Regions from separate parts of the Homo sapiens genome. Here region 1 is linked to region 2. Evidence: fine-mapped expression QTL. Tissue or cell type: cerebellar hemisphere. Region 2 holds a variant in brackets; the other region holds the start of a gene. All regions are shown on one strand. Distances are between the middles of the regions.

Region 1 (2,500 bases), 35 kb before region 2:
TTGTGTGTCTGTGCCTGGCCAAGGGAGGTGCCAACACTGGGCTTGCCACAGCCCCAGGAGAGGAATTTGGGGCCTAGGAACCGAGGGCACACGGGACTCTAGCCTCATCCCCAGGACCCCCTTGGCTCAGAGTGTGGTGCTAGAAACTGGCCCCCAGCCCAGCCCCAGTACTGCCACCTTTACACCTACCCCTGCAAGTCCCCAGAGGGCTGCCCACGATAGAAGCTGCCAAGCAGGGAGAACCTGTGCCAACTGTGGAGTGGGGAGGTTGGGCCTGGACCCTCAACCCCTGCAACCTTCCCTAGCCCCCTCAATAGATGAGCAGGTCAGGCTGTGGCCCTTACCTCACCCGCAGTTCTCGCCCAGTGCTGCAGCCGGCTCACCTCTCTCCGCTTCTTGCACATCACTGGCCTGTGTGTGCTGCTTGCTCCTGTTCTGTTCGCTTGCTCCCGTTCCGTTCGGCTTTTGCTTTGCGTTAGGGTGAAGACCCTAGCGTCCAGCTCCCCTCAACGCTATATTTTGACACTAAAAAAGAAGGTTTCTAAATTGTAGGAGCAGGATGGAAATACTTTGCTGCCCTTGCCATCTTTTAGGATGGGCCCCCAGGAGACTGAGGTCTTCCTGGGCCCTCATTGCTGCTTATCGTACCCCCCATCACCTGCACATGGGACAGACCGGGCTGGAGGGTGACCTTGGCTGTGTGCGTCCCAGCAAAAGAGCTCTGGCCCGCATCTCGCTGTGCCCTGAAGGGGGATGAAGGGCGATGCCTCGCCCGAGGCTTTGGGCTGCTGCACTGCATGCTGGGACTGCTCCTACTCTCTGTCCCACCCCTCACCCAGCTGTGGTCCGGCTTTGGGAGAGTGGTGAATTGCGCTGCCCGAACTCGGAGCGGAGCAGGGTAGGGACCGTGTACAGCTTGATAACCCTTAATAAAAAGGGAGTTTGACCAGACTTCTTGTTGTCTCGCGCGGCTAGAATCCTGGGAACAAGAGAAATGGGATGGGGACTCTGCCGGGGTCTAGAAGAAAGTATGTTTAGGCCGTCGCTCAGATACGCTGAGCAAGGCGGCTGGCGGAAGGGCAGCTTCCGACCCACAGTTCCGTGGAGGTCTGTGTCCTGCCCCGAGCCAGGATTCCGTGAGGTCTGTTTCCAGCCCCGAGCCACGATTCCGTGGAGGTTTCCAGCTCGGCCTGGTCGTCAGATTTCCCGCCCTGGGCACGTGACCAAGCCGGCTCTGCTTCTCTAATTTGCATTCGTTGCCTGCACCATTCCCCCCGCTCCCCCCTCGGAGACATTTGGCCAATGGGAGCCGTGGGTAGGGGCTGTGGGCGGGGCTACAGCCGTGGAGCGCGGTGCGAGTCCAACACCGAGCATTCCCGTGGGCCTGCAGTTGGCAGGAGGGTCCCGGGCCCAGAGCCAGCGGGGCCGTGCTGAGACGGCGTACGTGCCCTGCGTGAGTGCGTGGCGGCGGCGCGTGCGCTAGGGGAGTGGGCGGTGAGGCCTGGTCCACGTGCGTCCCTTCCCGGGACCCCCGCAGCTTGGCGCCCAGCGGCTACGTGAGCCAAGGCACCCGGATGTCCGCGCCCCTCTCCGAGTGACCAGTCCCGGCCTCCGGTCCCGCAGTGCCCGCAGCCTCGGCCGGCGTCCACGCATTGCCATGGTGACTGTGGGCAACTACTGCGAGGCCGAAGGGCCCGTGGGTCCGGCCTGGATGCAGGATGGCCTGAGTCCCTGCTTCTTCTTCACGCTCGTGCCCTCGACGCGGATGGCTCTGGGGACTCTGGCCTTGGTGCTGGCTCTTCCCTGCAGACGCCGGGAGCGGCCCGCTGGTGCTGATTCGCTGTCTTGGGGGGCCGGCCCTCGCATCTCTCCCTACGTGCTGCAGCTGCTTCTGGCCACACTTCAGGCGGCGCTGCCCCTGGCCGGCCTGGCTGGCCGGGTGGGCACTGCCCGGGGGGCCCCACTGCCAAGCTATCTACTTCTGGCCTCCGTGCTGGAGAGTCTGGCCGGCGCCTGTGGCCTGTGGCTGCTTGTCGTGGAGCGGAGCCAGGCACGGCAGCGTCTGGCAATGGGCATCTGGATCAAGTTCAGGCACAGCCCTGGTCTCCTGCTCCTCTGGACTGTGGCGTTTGCAGCTGAGAACTTGGCCCTGGTGTCTTGGAACAGCCCACAGTGGTGGTGGGCAAGGGCAGACTTGGGCCAGCAGGTGAGGGACTCTGTGGGAAGGGGGAAGCCTCTGCTGGCCGGGCTTGGGAGAAAGCACTGCATGTCCAGTCACACTGCTTCCAGGCTTTAGGATGCCTCTAAGCAAAGGGAGAAGGGAGGGGCTGAGTCCTGCCGGGAGCTGATAGCCAGCTGGTGGGGTGTGTCTTTGCTGAGTCACTGTGGTTTTGCTTTTTTTTTTTTTTTTAAGCCTGTAAGTGCTGAATGTGTTCATGACACCAGTCCCCGGCCCTATTATAAGTAGTAATACAATGAAATTTTATCCTCAATGATACTC
Region 2 (2,500 bases):
GCTCTCTTCTTGGATTAGAGATTCCCAGTTCCTCCAACAGTTTGTCCTATGATGATTTTCAGCCTTCATTTCTAGCAGTCATCTCCTGGACATACTACAATTTGCCCACAAGCCTAGCAAGCCATCCTCTGGAAGTATTAGGATATTCGTGCACAGGACACTAGAATTATCACATTTCTTGTTTTGGAGACTACACTTTTATTAATGCAGCCTAAAATTAAGTTTATAAGCAGCAACATTAAACTATTAGCTGTTTGAATACATAGCTAAAATGTACTCCCTCCTCCCCTAACATAAACATGTAGCCAACTCTTCTCCCCTCAGCCTGTACTTTTCCAGTTGATTTTTGTTTAGCCTAATTGTAGGTTTCACATTTCTGCTTTTTTCTTTTACTCATATGAAAACCTCTGGCCCTTTCATCGTGGGGCATGAACCGGCCAAGACACCTGATAATAGAAAAAAAAAATCATAGACAAACATGTAGCAACCATCAGACCATGGTGAATGTAAAGAATAGACCCTCATGAGGCTGGGCGCCGTGGCTCACACCTGTAATCCCAGCACTTTGGGAGGCCGAGGTGGGTGAATCACCTGAGGTCAGGAGTTCGAGACCAGCCTGGCCAACATGGTGAAACCCCACCTCTACTAAAAATACAAAAAATAGCCAGGCATCGTGGCATGCACCTGTAATCCCAGCTACTTGGACGGCTGAGGCAGGAGAATTGTTTGAACCTGGGAGGCAGAGGTTGCAGTGAACCAAGACTGCACCATTGCACTCCAGCCTGGGCAACAGAACAAGACTCCGTCTCAAAAAAAAAAAAAAAAAAACCCACAAAAAACAAAAAACCAAAACAACAACAACAAAAGAATAGACCCTCATGAAACTCCAGGCCTATGGAGAATATTTTGATCCAGCTACAAGCTTCTGGTTCTATTGTCAATGTCCAAGCTTAATAAGAAAATAGATTAAAGATAGGACATGTTGCAGTCATTGCCTGATTAATTCTATTTTTCTTGAATTGCTTGCTTATTGATTAGAACTGTTTTTCCATTCCCCTCTGAAATCTCTAAGTGATGAAAAGTTCGAGTTCCTTTAGTGGCACAGGACAGGGGCTCAATCAAACCCTAGAATGATTCTCAGTCAAATGTGAAGCAAACAGAAAAATTCTTACACACTTAGGAAAGACATGGCATAAAAGTCAACCTCAGAAAGACAGGCAGCATTACCATATGGTACCTCCAGCAGA[C/A]AGCCAGGCAGCATTACCATATGGTACCTCCAGCAGAAAGACAGGTAGCATCGCCATATGGTACCTCCAGCTGAAGGCGGAGGACATGAACTCATAAAGGAGGCCATCTGCTCAGTTCTGGGCTTTTCTTCCCCAAAGAGGAAGGCTTGCCATGTCCACTCTTTGTTAAGCCAAGGCATCAGATTGGTTCTCTATAGTTCCCACATCCTTGTGCATCTTCCTACCTGTGCCCTATTAATGGACAGGGGCTGTCTGATGCATTTGCTGAAGCCAAAACTTCTTGGGTTTGGGTTCTGGCTCCACAATTTACTGGGACCTGTGGCCTTCAGGAAGCTTAACCTGTCTATAAAATGAAGTTAGTAACAGTATATATCTGACCTGTGAGGAAAAATCTTAATACATATAAATCACTCAGAGCAGAGCCAAGCACATACAATGGACTCAGTAACTGTTAAGATACTATTTCTTCAGTGTTCCTTGGCTCCAACTCATTTCTAACACAGGTAAAGGTCCTCTATTGCTTGTTTGGCTTCCCCAGTAAAGATAAATCCAGGCTGAGTGAGTTGTTAGCATGTAGATGGGTGAAGACTTCTTAAGAAAGCAGTGTTAAGGTTGTAGGCCACATGGTAAAACACAATTTTTATGGTCCCGAATTTCTACCGATTGGGAAGACAAAGCAATTTCCTCCTGCATATACTTTATTCACACATGCTAAATCTCACTAAACAGATCACACTGTCAAGGAAGATGGCTAAGGAGAAGCTAGGGTTGTCAAGGTAATCCTTGCTTCGGCCCTGTTTTGCAACAAGGTAATAAACAGCCAGAACAGACTGGAGTGAAGCAGGTTAAGGGTGAGGAGAGAACACAGTGCAGTGCAGGGTGTGGAAGGCAGCTCACAGTCAGGGAGGCAGCAGTTCTAGCCAATCAACACTTTATTTTTCAAGTCAACACCTGCACAGATGTTAGTGTCCACTTCCTGACCCTAGTAGGGGGTCCCACTACACTTGGATCACCCAGAGGAGCAGTAAGGAAGCTCCTAATCTCAAGAGAGAGCACATGCTCACCAACTCCAGTGCTGGCGCCATGTACTGCGGGATCCCTGCTCTCCTGCATCATGAAAGGCCGGGCTGAATGGGGCAAGGATGCAGTGAAGGTTACACAGACTACAGTGACCTAAGAGTGTAACTACTGGCCTGACCCACTGCCCCAGGTTTACTCTTTACTTCCCAGACCAGGAGCCTCCCTAAAGCTTG

Direction of the effects. Alleles are on the strand shown, and positions count from the first base shown. SD is a standard deviation of normalised expression in the study named.
For the expression in cerebellar hemisphere of the gene that starts at base 1,373 in region 1, C is the low allele of the variant in region 2 and A is the other (small effect, 0.20 SD a copy in GTEx).

What was found. PIP is the estimated chance that this variant, and not a neighbour inherited with it, causes the effect. A credible set is the group of variants that fine-mapping cannot tell apart.
Region 1: ABCB6 starts here. The variant in region 2 is the best candidate, but not a certain one, in a credible set for the expression of ABCB6 in cerebellar hemisphere (GTEx, PIP 0.82).

Annotation. Positions count from the first base shown.
Region 1 is chr2:219,217,831-219,220,330 of GRCh38, reverse strand. ABCB6 (ATP binding cassette subfamily B member 6 (LAN blood group)) reads left to right here and starts at 1,373. Exons shown (of 19, transcript NM_005689.4): 1 at 1,373-2,206. The coding sequence starts at 1,658. ATG9A (autophagy related 9A) reads left to right here. Exons shown (of 16, transcript NM_001077198.3): 16 at 1-951. RefSeq lists a silencer at 1,934-2,043 and an enhancer at 1,289-2,156.
Region 2 is chr2:219,183,154-219,185,653 of GRCh38, reverse strand. It overlaps RETREG2 (reticulophagy regulator family member 2), which reads right to left. Exons shown (of 9, transcript NM_024293.6): 9 at 179-2,500. Among named protein-coding and RNA genes, the nearest start is that of RETREG2, 6.1 kb to the right of the region's middle. The variant C/A (reference allele first, on the strand shown) is at 1,248.